Linked DNA regions of Homo sapiens. The protein of the gene in region 1 purifies or fractionates together with the protein of each later gene. This does not show direct contact. Each region holds a gene or a part of one and is shown on either strand. Other genes may lie near its edges.

Region 1 (3,500 bases):
AACAAATGACAGCTGGTGGGGTCAGGCCCATTGTGTTTAATATGAGTAATAAATAGGCCACACATATTTGCAGGAGTTCTCGTCATCCACGAAGCTGCATGAGGGAGCTCAGTAGGCTCTTCCTGGGCTGTCTAGTATGGTAGCTACTAGCCACATGGGGCTCTTTCCATTTACATTTATTAAAGTTTAATTTTAATAAAAATCAAGTAAAAACAGCTCTTTGGTTGTGCTAGCATATTGCAGAAATTCTGCTGGACACTTCTTCAGATCTACACCAGCGTATCCCAACTGGTGTCACCTAAAATACTCAGCTTCACTGGTATTGCTAAGGACTTCTCTCCCTCTTTGAGGTTGACAAGGCCTGATGGGCGATCAAAGCCTATAGGTGAGACATCACAATGAAATAAATGTCTTGACTCAGGGTTTCTCACACTCCCTCAGGTAGGTAACCCCTTTTTGAGCCTGTAAACACCCATGTAGCAGCCTTTGGAAAAGAGACCGCTGCCAGAGATATCTTACACTGCATCCTAAGTGAATTCACGCAGGACTCACCGTGTGTTTCGGTTCATGGTAAACATACCATCTACATAGAGGAAGAAACGGTGCCCACGCATCCTCTGTGTTACTCCTGCTAGATGTGGTTCCTGGGTTGCTCTGGTTTTCTGAAGGTCTTCTAAGACGTTGTTTTTTTCCTTGCAGTTGAATCTGGTATCAAGTGTCACTCTCTCCAAGTCCGCATCGGAGGCTTCTCCACAGAGCTTACCTCATACTCCAACGACCCCAACCGCCCCCCTGACTCCCGTCACCCAAGGCCCCTCTGTCATCACAACCACCAGCATGCACACGGTGGGACCCATCCGCAGGCGGTACTCAGACAAATACAACGTGCCCATTTCGTCAGGTAGATACTCCACCTTTTGCCTCACGTAGAGTTGTAATCTGCAATTCTTGTAGACCAGCCCCTTTTGAAAAAGTGATAATTAATAGGACAATGATTCTTATTCAGCAGATATTGCGCAGAACCAAGAATTTTATAAGAACGCAGAAGTTAGACCACCATTTACATATGCATCTTTAATTAGGCAGGTAAGTAAATAACACAGTATATGAAATTCTGTCAGAAGGTATATGTGTACATGGATATATATTGATGAAGTAGATTTAAAAACCGTTTAGTATGCAAGCATGCTGAAACCTTTTCTATAAGGTTTTTTAAAACTGCAATATATAACATAATTGCTTTTGATTAAGTATTACAATACGATGTGATTATTAGGAAATTCATTTCACACAACAGTGAAAATGAGCCTGTTTAAAGATGGCAAGTCAATTATCACAAGCTACAGTAATCTCTGATCCCTAGAATTAATCTGAGCTCTAAATAATTACTGAGCTTTAATCAGCTAGTGAAATGTTTTGCATTTCTCTTTGATTCTGCTTTATGAATGACTAATAAATTAATATTTCTGTACGGAAACAGAAATAAAAACTCAAAACAATTAGATAATTCCATTTTGAATTTTGCTATTGAACTGTTAAATACAACCATTAATCTTAGATCATTTTGTAAAACCTTTCTCAGGATTTAGCTCTGAATCACAGTGATTTTATATTTTCGAGAAACTGTGGAATGACGACTCTGCTGATTTGGTCATAAATTATCTTCTGTTACATTCTGCTTCACAGGCCATTCTCGAATCTCCAGAAAAGCAGCTAACACTAAATGAGATCTATAACTGGTTCACACGAATGTTTGCTTACTTCCGACGCAACGCGGCCACGTGGAAGGTAAGCTTTCTCAGGCCTGTTTATTCTTGGATCTTGACGTTCATAGAACAGTTTGTTGTTGATAAAATGCAGTTGTGCTATAAGGAAGCTACATTTATATTGTTTTGATACTCTTAAAGTGTCCAATCTCTAGGTGTATTTGATTGGGAAAATAGTGCCATTGTGGTTGAAATGCTCTGATGGAAGACTCCCATTATACCAGCATCAGCAGTGTGGAGGGGCCAGCCAGTAAAGTGATCTCTCTCTGGTTGGAATATGTAGAGAAAAGGAGACAACACCGTCGCCCAGAAGTGGAGGTTGCCATATTACTTGCACAAACCTCATGCCGTTAGGTCTTCAGCCACAGCCGATATTTGCAGAGATGTATCTCCAGCGATCTATCTCCAGAGATGGAACCTGGAGAAATGACCAAACTTGACACAGCCTTCAATGGTTGGATAAATAGCTCATTAACCCAATTAGTAGAGAAAGCTGTGCAATCCAAGCACTAGCACTGTTTGTAGGAGTTATTAATGGAGAACACAATGTATTATTAAGGGGCAGGGGTTTTTGTTTTTCTTTTTTTGGTTTTAAGTCAAGAGATTGTCGGCCAGGCACAGTGGCTCATGCCTATAATCCCAGCACTTTGGGAGGCTAAGGCAAGAGGATCACTTGAGCTCAGGAGTTAGAGACCAGCCTGGGCAACGTAGCGAGACCCTGTCTCTACAAAAAAAATTCAATGAATTAGCCAGGCATGGTGGCATGCACCTGTGGTCAACAGCTACTCCAGAGGCAGAGGTGGGACGATTGCTTGAGGCAAGGAGGTTGAGGCTGCAGTGAGCCCTGTTCATGCCACTGCACTCCAGCCTGGGCAACAGAGCAAGACCCTGTCTCAAAAAAAAAAAAAAAAAAGGAGATTGTCCCTCATAGATATACTAAGGAAGAAAAGTAGATTTCGAACTTCATTATATTCATTATAATACTATTTGCTGTAAAAACAAGTCAAATTGCATAGCTCTTTATTGGATGCCCCCAGTAGTGCTTGGGGTCATATATGGCTTACCTCATTCCCAGGTCAGCAGCTGGCTCAAAGATTCCACTGGTATTTACTCCCTTATATTAGATTGATCCCTCACATATTTTTGGGCTTTCCCATTTTTGATTTCTTGGTGTCTAATATTCTTGCTTATAGAAGGGGACAGGTACACTCTGTCATTTGTATTTTTGCATTTTTTACTACCTGGAATTCTTGTAATCCCTGAAATCCAAAACATTTAGAGACATGTGATAACAAACATTTGAGGCTATTTTTACATGCCATTAATCTAAATATGATAAGGATGTGTTATAGGACACAAGGAAAACTTCCTTCGCCTGAAATAAATGCCTTCCTTGCTAATTCCTTAATTTTATACCGGAGAAAAACCAAAGCAAAAGACAGAAAAATACATTTCCTCTGTTAAGTTCCTGATAAATTAGCATTTTAAAAGAAAACGAATATAACCATAGAATTAATTCATCAACTTTACAGAGCTGTGAATATCCATTATGGCCCAAATTATCCTTTCATTTCCATTAAGACACATGGGCACTGAAGGGAACCTATGTTCAAAATCTTACCCTCTTTGCCTCAGCCTGCCTTGGAAGATAAAATATGAAAGGATCTTTAGCCATGAATGCTTTAAAAAATTTAGGAAGTCGAAGCATGAGGCAGACATTTTCTTCAGATTGCC
Region 2 (3,500 bases), on another chromosome or scaffold:
GGCAAAACCCTGTCTCTACAAAAAGTGGCTGGGTGCGGTGGCTCACGCCCATAATCCCAGCACTTTGGGAGGCTGAGGTGGCAGATCACGAGGTTAGGAGTTCAAGACCAGCCTGACCAACGTGGTAAAACCCCGTCTCTACTAAAAATACAAAAATTAGCTGGGTGTGGTGGCTCATGGCTGTAATCCCAGTTATTCAGGAGGCTGAGGCAGGACAATCGCTTGAACCAGGGAGGCGGAAGTTGCAGTGAGCCGAGATCGCGCCACTGTACTCCAGCCAGGGCAATAGAGGGAGACTCTTTCTCAAAAGAAATGGGAGGCCCAGGTGGGCGGATCACGAGGTCAGGAGATGAGACCATCCTGGCTAACATGGTGAAACCCCCATCTCTACTAAAAATACAAAATAATTAGCCGGGCGTGGTGGCGGGCGCCTATAGTCCCAGCTACTCCGGAGGCTGAGACAGGAGAATGGTGTGAACCCGGGAGGCGGAGCTTGCAGTGAGCCGAGATCGCGCCACTGCATTCCAGCCTGGGCGACAGAGTGAGACTCCGTCTCAAAAAAAAAAAAAAAGGAAAAAGAAAAATGCTGTTTGGCTGGGCTCGGTGGTTTACTCCTGTAATCTCAGCAATTTGGGAGGCAAAGGTGAGTGGATCACTTGAGGTCAGGAGTTTGAGACTAGCCTGGCCATCATGGCGAAATCCTGTCTCTACTAAAAATACAAAAATTAGCCGGGTGTGGTGGCACACTCCTGTAGTCCTGGCATCTCGGGAGGCTGAGGCAGGAGAATCTCTTGAACCTGGGAGGCAGAGGTTGCAGTGAGCCGCCATTGCACTACAGCCTGGGCGACAGAGCGAGAGCCCATCCCAAAAAAAAACCCCAAAAACAAAAAAAAAATTAGCTAGGCATGGTGTCATGACACTGTAGTCCTAGCTACTCACGAGGCTGTGGTGGAAGATTGCTTGAGCCCAAGAGGCTGAGGTTGCCCTGAGCTGTGATTGCACCACTGCATTCCAGCCAAGGCGACAGAGTGAAACCCCGTCTCAGGAAAAAAAAAAAAAGAGAAAAAGAGTTCGGCCGGGTGCAGTGGCTCACATCTGTAATCCCAGCACTTTGGGAGGCCAAGGCAGGCGGATTACGAGGTCAAGAGATTGAGACCGGCCGGGCACGGTGGCTCACGCCTGTAATCCCAGCACTTTGGGAGGCCGAAGCGGGCAGATCACGAGGTCGGGAGATCGAGACCATCCTGGCTAACACGGTGACACCCCGTCTCTACTAAAAATAAAAAAATTAGCCTGGCGTGGCAACAGGCGCCTGTAGTCCCAGCTACTTGGGAGGCTGAGACAGAAGAATGGCCTGAACCCAGGTGGTGGAGCTTGCAGTGAGCTGAGATCAGGCCACTGCACTCCAGCCTGTGAGACTCCGTCTCAAAAAAAAAAAAAAAAAGATTGAGACTATCCTGGCCAACATGGTGAAACCTTGTCTCTATTAAAACTACAAAAATTAGCTGGGCGTGGTGGCTCATGCCTGTAATCCCAGCTACCCGGGAGTCTGAGGCAGGAGAATCCCTTGAACCAGGGAATTGGAGGTTGCAGTGAGCTGAGATCGCGCCAATGCACTCTAGCTTGGCGTCAGAGCGAGACTCCGTCTCAAAAAATAAAAATAAAAAGATAATTGGGGAAGGAGTGAACAATGATAAAAATGAAACATGATTGGGGATATTACTGGTTATTAAGTTGGATAATCAGTACATGGGTATTTATTGTATTTTTCTTATATATATTTTAAAAATTTCCATAATACACTTCAAGATTGTTTTATATGTCAGTTTTCCTTAACATCTTTGTACTCTATAGAACCTGAGAAAGTGCCTGAGATAAGTAGGTCATCAGTCAGGTCTAAATAACGCCTTGTCCGGGAGCAAGGGTAGGCTGAGTAGACCAGCCCACTCCTGTCCTTAGTGATGGAGTCTTAGAGCAAGAGAAAGGTTGCCCATGAGAACACTTTATAGAGCAGTCTTTGTTTTTATCCCCCCAATAAGATACTGCTTGTGGGGTATTATTTGTATTTGTCTTAGTGGTCTTGGGGATAAATCTAAAGGGAAAAGTCATGGGTTGTTTTAATCTATAAATGTTTAGCTGGTAAAGGCAGTATTTTCCCCCAGTCATTATTTTGTTTGCTTATAGTCATTTTACCTTTGAGCCCCAAAGCAGTTTTATATTTTCCCATTTCAGATTAGCAAAATGATAGAAAAACACTAAATTATTATTTTTAAATTTTTTTATTTTTAATTTTGTGTGTACATAGTAGGCGTCTGTGTGTGTGTGTGTGTGTGTGTGTGTGTGTGTGTGTGTGTATATATATATATATTTTTTTTTTTTTTTTTTTTTTTTTTCTCCCCGAGACAGAGTCTTGCTCTGTCACCCTGGCTGGAGTGCAGTGGCACGATCTTGGCTCACTGCTGCCTCCGCCTCCCAGGTTCAAGCAGTTCTCCTGCCTCAGCCTCCCAAGTAGCTGGGATTATAGGTGCTTGCTACTGTGCCTGGCTAATTTTTTTGTATTTTTAGTGGAGACAGGGTTTCACCATTTTGGCCAGGCTGGTCTTGAACTCCTGACCTTGTGATCGGCTTGCCTCTGCCTCCCAAAGTGCTGGGATTACAGGCGTGAGCTACCGCGCCCAACGGTGTATATATTTATGTGGTGCATGAGATGTTTTGATACAGGCATGCAATGTGAAATGATCACATCAGGGAAAATGGGGTATCTATCCTCTCAAGCATTTATCCTTTGTGTTACAAACAATACAATTACATGCTTTCATTTTGTTTATTTATTTATTTATTTATTTTTGAGACAGAGTCTTGCCCTGTCGCTCAGGCTGGAATGCAATGACACAATCTCAGCTCACTGCAACTTCCGCCTCCCGGGTTCAAGCAGTTCTGCCTCAGCCTCCGCAGTAGCTGGGATTATAGGCGCACGCCACCAGGCAGGCTAATTTTTTGTGTCTTTAGTAGAGATGGAGTTTCACCATGTTGGCCAGGCTAGTCTCAAACTCCTGACCTCATGATCCTCCTACCTCGGCCTCCCAAAGTGCTAGGATTACAGGCTTGAGCCACTGCGCCCAGCCACTTTTATTTTAAAATAACACTAAATTATCAAATTTAAACATTTCCAGCTGGGCACGGTGGCTCACACCTGTAATCCTAGCCTTTTGGGAGGCCGAGGCGGGCGGATCATGAGGTCAGGAGATCAAGACCAGCCTGGCTAACACGGTGAAACCCCGTTTCTACTAAAAATACAAAAAATTAGCCGGGTGTGGTGGCGGACGCCTGTAGTCTCAGCTACTTGGGAGACTGAGGCAGGAGAATGGCGTGAACCCGGGAGGTGGAGCTTGCAGTGAGCCGAGATTGTGCCACTGCACTCCAGCCTGGGCGACAGTGCGAGACTCTATCTCAAAAAAAAAAAAAATAAAATAAAATAAACATTTCCTTTGTTACAGAGC
Region 3 (3,500 bases), about 54 Mb from region 1:
ATGGTTTCCAGCTTCATCCATGTCCCTACAAAGGACATGAACTCATCCTTTTTTATGGCTGCATAGTATTCCATGGTGTATATGTGCCACATTTTCTTAATCCAGTCTATCGTTGTTGGACATTTGGGTTGGTTCCAAGTCTTTGCTATTGTGAATAGTGCAGCAGTAAACAACTCAGTAATTTGAAATTTAAAAAAAGTTTAACTCAATGATTATTGAGTTGAAAGTACTGAGTGCCATAGAAGAGGTACAGATAGAATTCTGTGGAAACTTAAAGATACCTTTCACCTGGGAGAAAAGGACAGAGTATCCCAAAGGAGATGGGTTGGGTCTCAAAGGGAATATAGTATTTGAACACCCAAAGGTGGACATTCCCAATCGAAGGAGCAGCGTGAATCAGGGCAAAAGTAGGAAAGCATGAGATGGTAGGTATTTCGGTTTGTCTGAAAGGGTTACCAAGAGAAAGAGTGAAATATAAAGATGTAAAAGTAAATCAGAATAGACATAGTGTTGTTAGTTGTCTTTTTAAAATGTGTGTATCTTGTTTTCCCAATTATGTTATAAACTTTGAAGACAAGTAGTATGTCTTATACTTTTAACCTCCTACAACAAGGGGTTTGGATATAGTAGTAGTATTTGGTAAAAATTTTGTTAAATGTATGAAAGGGAGAAACAGTAGTTTCCCCAACAAGCATTATTCAAGGTAACTTCTTGTCATACCCTTCTGTTTACTTAGACTGTGGTTTTATCAGTAAAAACTATTTTAGAGCTTCATAGTAGTGGTTCTTTACAGCTTAGAAATCATTGCGGGGGCCAGTGGCACAATGGATAACACACCTGACTATGAATCAGAAGATTCTAGGAGTCATTAGGGGATTTTCAAAAATGGGGGTTATGTGTTATGTGTCCAATTAACAATACTCAGTTTAATTCATTCCCTAAATGATATGGGAAGTGCTGGCTTGAGTTGAGGAAAAGAATAAATATAAACAAACTTAAGACTCTAAGTTCTTTTTGTATTTTATTAAATTAGATTTTAAAGGATATTTTCAGGATTCAGATTTTATTTAACCACAAATGTTTTAAAAAAGGAATTGAGTTAAAAAACTGTCTCCAGGAATTGTGTTGTATTGTGCATGGGTAACTTTTTGTTTTTTACTGTTATACAATATTTTATATGATTGAAAAAAAGATTAGAAACATCAGCTAGTCTGTTCATATTGCTATAAATTCCTGGCACTGCTGTTCTCCTTGGAAAGAGGGTATTACATACGCACATAACAAAAAGACAGGAAAATGGACTGTGCCTGTATTCATCCTTTTCTTTCCAATAGCATATGCTAATCCTTTTCATTTTTATAAAGCAAAATATATTTGACAAATGAAATTGGAAGTTACAACTTTCAAAAGCCATTTATTTTAGAGATTCTTATGGCAAAGCAATTCATTATTTTACAATATTTGTTTTGTTTTAAACTTTCTATATTATGTGCTAGGTGAAAAACCATTTCGCTGTGATGAATGTGGTATGAGATTCATACAAAAATATCATATGGAAAGGCATAAGAGAACTCATAGTGGAGAAAAACCTTACCAGTGTGAATACTGTTTACAGGTAAGAGAGATGGCTTGAAATTCTTCTACTGTAATTAAATTATACAATAATTATAAATTAGATTAGAAAATATTACAACTTAGAGCTATTTAAGGGGCCTTCTAACTCTTACAGATTAGATTTATAATAGAAAATTGGCTCAGTGAATTTGTTTGGAATTATGTATGTTATTGCATTAATATATCTTTATATTAATTGTTTTGTTTCACTTTTTCTTTTCTTGGTTGACCAAAACCACAAACAACCCACTACCATCCTCTGAATTCAACAGTATTTTTCCAGAACAGATCGTGTATTGAAACATAAACGTATGTGCCATGAAAATCATGACAAAAAACTAAATAGATGTGCCATCAAAGGTGGCCTTCTGACATCTGAGGAAGATTCTGGCTTTTCTACATCACCAAAAGACAACTCACTGCCAAAAAAGAAAAGGCAGAAAACGGAGAAAAAATCATCTGGAATGGACAAAGAGAGTGCTTTGGACAAATCTGACCTGAAAAAAGACAAAAATGATTACTTGCCTCTTTATTCTTCAAGTACTAAAGTAAAAGATGAGTATATGGTTGCAGAATATGCTGTTGAAATGCCACATTCGTCAGTTGGGGGCTCGCATTTAGAAGATGCGTCAGGAGAAATACACCCACCTAAGTTAGTTCTCAAAAAAATTAATAGTAAGAGAAGTCTGAAACAGCCACTGGAGCAAAATCAAACAATTTCACCTTTATCCACATATGAAGAGAGCAAAGTTTCAAAGTATGCTTTTGAACTTGTGGATAAACAGGCTTTACTGGACTCAGAAGGCAATGCTGACATTGATCAGGTTGATAATTTGCAGGAGGGGCCCAGTAAACCTGTGCATAGTAGTACTAATTATGATGATGCCATGCAGTTTTTGAAGAAGAAGCGGTATCTTCAAGCAGCAAGTAACAACAGCAGGGAATATGCGCTGAATGTGGGTACCATAGCTTCTCAGCCTTCTGTAACACAAGCAGCTGTGGCAAGTGTCATTGATGAAAGTACCACGGCATCCATATTAGAGTCACAGGCACTGAATGTGGAGATTAAGAGTAATCATGACAAAAATGTTATTCCAGATGAGGTACTGCAGACTCTGTTGGATCATTATTCCCACAAAGCTAATGGACAGCATGAGATATCCTTCAGTGTTGCAGATACTGAAGTGACTTCTAGCATATCAATAAATTCTTCAGAAGTACCAGAGGTCACCCCGTCAGAGAATGTTGGATCAAGCTCCCAAGCATCCTCATCAGATAAAGCCAACATGTTGCAGGAATACTCCAAGTTTCTGCAGCAGGCTTTGGACAGAACTAGCCAAAATGATGCCTATTTGAATAGCCCGAGCCTTAACTTTGTGACTGATAACCAGACCCTCCCAAATCAGCCAGCATTCTCTTCCATAGACAAGCAGGTCTATGCCACCATGCCCATCAATAGCTTTCGATCAGGAATGAATTCTCCACTAAGAACAACTCCAGATAAGTCCCACTTTGGACTAATAGTTGGTGATTCACAGCACTCATTTCCCTTTTCAGGTGATGAGACAAACCATGCTTCTGCCACATCAACACAGGACTTTCTGGATCAAGTGACTTCTCAGAAGAAAGCTGAGGCCCAGCCTGTCCACCAAGCTTACCAAATGAGCTCCTTTGAACAGCCCTTCCGTGCTCCCTATCATGGATCAAGAGCTGGAATAGCTACTCAATTTAGCACTGCCAATGGACAGGTGAACCTTCGGGGACCAGGGACAAGTGCTGAATTTTCAGAATTTCCCTTGGTGAATGTAAATGATAATAGAGCTGGGATGACATCTTCACCTGATGCCACAACTGGCCAGACTTTTGGCTAAAAAAAAAAAAAAAGT
Region 4 (3,500 bases), on another chromosome or scaffold:
ACAACCCAAACCTGATCACAGCCCTCCCTGCTGGAAATAGCAGCGGCTCAATATAAAGCCCAGAATCCCCAACATGCCTCCTATCCCTTGCACAGTCTGGCCCCTCCTGTCCCATTAGCCTCATCGTGTGCTGCTTCCTTCTCCTGACTCGCCACCCTCCAGCCAGAGAGACTTTACCCATGCTTTTCCAGGTACCCAGAACGTTCTCCACCCTATAGCTTTTTGCCTTCCCGAGTCTTACCCAAATTCTAAGCTTGATTTTCTCTTCTTGAGGGAAGTCTTTCCTATACCCCCAGTTGTGGTTACATCCCTTTAATATATGTGCTCACAGCTTGCTGTTTGACCTCTTTGGAGCACAACCGTGATTTAATAGTTTGTGTCATAATTTGTCTGGTGTGTCTCCCTCACTAGACTGTAAGCTCCAGAAGGTTGGGAGCATGTCCATTTTGCTCACTGCTGTATCTCTGGTGTTCATACAGTCCTACATGTAGGCAGCTTTCAGTAAATATATGCTGAATAATGAATGAGTGAGCTGGGCGTGGTGGCTCACACCTGTAATCCCAGCACTTTGAGAGGCCAAGGCAGGCAGATCACCAGAGGTCAGAAGTTTGAGACAAGCCTGGCCAACATGGCAAAACCCCGTCTCTGCCAAAAATACAAAAATTAGCTGGGCATGGTGGCGTGCACCTGTAATCCCAGCTACTTGGGAGGCTGAGGCAGGAGAATTGCTTGAACCCAGGAGGCGGAGGTTGCAGTGAGCCGAGACTGCACCATTGCACTCCAGCCTGGATGAAAATTGCTAAACTCCATCTCTAAATAAATAAATAAATAATGAATGAATGAATGTTTTCTCGGCACTTTTGGTCAGCCCTCTAGTAAAAACCCACCACTTATCACATTGTATTACAGGCTGCTGTGGACACATCTCCTTTCCTTATCAGACTGTGAGCTCCTTAAGGGCAGGGACTGTGTCTTATTCTTCTTTGAGCCTCCATTGCTTAATGCAGTACTGGCATGTGGCAGGCACTCATATATTTGTTGCACGCACTCAAATATTTGTGGCGGACCTTCCCTCTTAACGTGGAGCTAAGTACCTTCTGCAGGGAGGCTGATGCTCTCTGTCCCCACAGATGTGAGCTGTGATGAATGGGCCTTCTCTTTGCTGCCTCTTGATGTGGATCTGCTGAGCATGGAACTACCAGAATTTTTCAGGGATTACTTTCTGGTAAATGCAGAGGCCCTTGTGTCTTGGCATCAGGGGATGGGGACAAATGTGGGATGCAGAGGGCTAGAAATACCAATATAACCTTTGTCCAACGCAAGTAATTTATCACAAGTGATAGTGATGTGGTGATTGAGTGCTACAGATTGGTCTCTGTGGGACTTCCTGTGGAGCCAATGAAAACCTTTCAAGCATCCCCCAGGCCCTGCCACCCTGCTCCAGGGCTTCTAGGGCTAGCCACTTTCCAGGTGGTCCTACTGGGTTGATTCATATCTTTGTGGCTTGTGTGGTCCCTGCAGGAAGGAGATCAGCGTTGGATCAACACTGTAGCTCAGGCCTTACACCTTCTCAGCACTCTCTATGGACCCTTTCCAAACTGCTATGGAATTGGCAGGTGCGCCAAGGTAAGAGCACTAGCAGTACTGTTGTCCCAGCAGACGCTGTTTTCCCTGTTCTGTACCCTCCTGGGGTTATCCAAGGGCACCTGTGATATGAGGTGTATTCTTTACTTTGCTTTCATTGTTCTGGAATAGATCCTCAGAGAGGAGAACTTGTGTGGCTAACAGAGAAGCAAAAGCCAGGATCTCCTGGGTAGCATTCCTAAATCTCTTTTTATTTTGGGGACAGAGTAACACATCTTCTCATCAGTAGGAAGAGTGTTGGGGAAAGATAGACACAGACGGGAGTAGATAGGGCCATATTGTGAATAATTAGCTCCTGTCTCGGGGACAAGAGGAAGTATCACGTGGAAAGGGCTGACTTCTGTAGGTATGGGGCTGCAGTAGGGACCTGGACACAAGACTGAGAATGTCTTGGGCCCTGGCAGATGGCATATGAATTGTGGAGGAACCTGGAGGAGGAGGAGGATGGCGAAACCAAGGGCCGAAGGCCAGAGATTGGACATATCTTTCTCTTGGACAGAGGTAAATTATGCCCAGCGTTCCTGTCATCTTTCAGCCCTAGAAGACACGGGAATATGGAAGGCGTGGTGGCAAAGTTAAAATCCTAAAGTTAGGGCTGTGAATCCCAGCTTTGAGGAGCGTGGGTCCTTGGCCCTATGGAAAGTATCAAAGCTGCCCTTGGACATGCTGTGTAGAAGGCTGGGTCAGGGAGAACCTTCATGGTCAGGGATCTCTGTTTCAGATGTGGACTTTGTGACAGCACTTTGCTCCCAAGTGGTTTATGAGGGCCTAGTAGATGACACCTTCCGCATCAAGTGTGGTAAGTGCTATGGTCCTCTGCATCTTGGCAAGATGGACGGGTCATCAGCCTTGGCACCTCCCACGTGGGGCAGGGTTTGTGGGAGAGACCCAGACCCTGAATGAACTGCTGGCTTCCAAATAGTTTGAGGACCTTTATGGCAGTTCAGGGAATGGTAGGAGAAGTCCTCATTGGAGATCCTAATAGCTGTCCCTCTGCTCTCAAAGGGAGTGTCGACTTTGGCCCAGAAGTCACATCCTCTGACAAGAGCCTGAAGGTGCTACTCAATGCCGAGGACAAGGTGAGGGTGTGGGTGCTAGCAATGGGCCCACCTAGGGCCACTGCTTATACCAGGCTGTGGGCCCCCTGCTTATACCAGGCTGTGGGCCCCAGCTCTGAGAGGGGAGGCTGAGTCTATGGGAGAGAGGGTTTCCCCACCAGTTCAGAGCATCTCCTAGAACACGGTGTAGGCATTTGATATGGACTTACAGATCCCAGCTCAGCTTTCTTTGTATTTCTGCCAGAACACCTGAGTACCCTTCCTGTACTGTCATTCTACTGCTAAGTTATGGTTCTGACAGAGTAAGCTGTTCTTGTCTTACTGTCCTCACAGGTGTTTAATGAGATTCGGAACGAGCACTTCTCCAATGTCTTTGGCTTCTTGAGCCAGAAGGCCCGGAACTTGCAGGCCCAGTATGATGTGAGGCTCCAAGCCCTGCTCCTCTGTTTTGTTGCCTCAGTGGCTTCCCAAGGCTGCTGCCCTTGGGCTCCCCTTCTAATACTATGACAGGTTCCCTGTCCTTTCTCATGGATGGATGGCAACTGAGGGAGGGTGGTGGTTTCTCGTGTCTGAGGTTGGGGGGTTCACCTTTGGGAATTTTCCCACAGCGCCGGAGAGGCATGGACATTAAGCAGATGAAGAATTTCGTGTCCCAGGAGCTCAAGGGCCTGAAACAGGAGCACCGCCTGCTGAGTCTCCGTAGGTTTCAGCTTGAGGGGCGTGAGGGGAAGTGACTGTGTCCCTCTGGGGAAAGCTCCAGAGGACCATTACTCCCGAGGAGGAGATCCCTGTTCATCT

The links. The genes of interacting proteins can lie anywhere in the genome.
Region 2: the proteins of FOXP1 (region 1) and NUP155 purify together in Homo sapiens (affinity purification with mass spectrometry, with the first as the bait; one large-scale study listed by BioGRID). This does not show direct contact.
Region 3: the proteins of FOXP1 (region 1) and ZNF148 purify together in Homo sapiens (affinity purification with mass spectrometry, with the first as the bait; one study listed by BioGRID). This does not show direct contact.
Region 4: the proteins of FOXP1 (region 1) and VPS33B purify together in Homo sapiens (affinity purification with mass spectrometry, with the first as the bait; one large-scale study listed by BioGRID). This does not show direct contact.

What each region holds. Positions count from the first base shown.
Region 1 is NC_000003.12:70,975,229-70,978,728, reverse strand, and holds part of FOXP1 (forkhead box protein P1), read left to right. Parts: intron 1-699; coding exon 700-901; intron 902-1,006; coding exon 1,007-1,086; intron 1,087-1,686; coding exon 1,687-1,788; intron 1,789-3,500. UniProt on the Homo sapiens protein: Transcriptional repressor. Can act with CTBP1 to synergistically repress transcription but CTPBP1 is not essential. Plays an important role in the specification and differentiation of lung epithelium.
Region 2 is NC_000005.10:37,364,607-37,368,106, reverse strand, and holds part of NUP155 (nuclear pore complex protein Nup155), read left to right. Parts: intron 1-3,500.
Region 3 is NC_000003.12:125,232,326-125,235,825, reverse strand, and holds part of ZNF148 (zinc finger protein 148), read left to right. Parts: intron 1-1,496; coding exon 1,497-1,615; intron 1,616-1,886; coding exon 1,887-3,485; 3' UTR 3,486-3,500. UniProt on the Homo sapiens protein: Involved in transcriptional regulation. Represses the transcription of a number of genes including gastrin, stromelysin and enolase. Binds to the G-rich box in the enhancer region of these genes.
Region 4 is NC_000015.10:91,005,595-91,009,094, reverse strand, and holds part of VPS33B (vacuolar protein sorting-associated protein 33B), read left to right. Parts: intron 1-118; coding exon of another isoform or gene 119-191; intron 192-1,130; coding exon 1,131-1,225; intron 1,226-1,521; coding exon 1,522-1,626; intron 1,627-2,048; coding exon 2,049-2,145; intron 2,146-2,365; coding exon 2,366-2,443; intron 2,444-2,649; coding exon 2,650-2,723; intron 2,724-3,035; coding exon 3,036-3,122; intron 3,123-3,310; coding exon 3,311-3,401; intron 3,402-3,500. UniProt on the Homo sapiens protein: May play a role in vesicle-mediated protein trafficking to lysosomal compartments and in membrane docking/fusion reactions of late endosomes/lysosomes.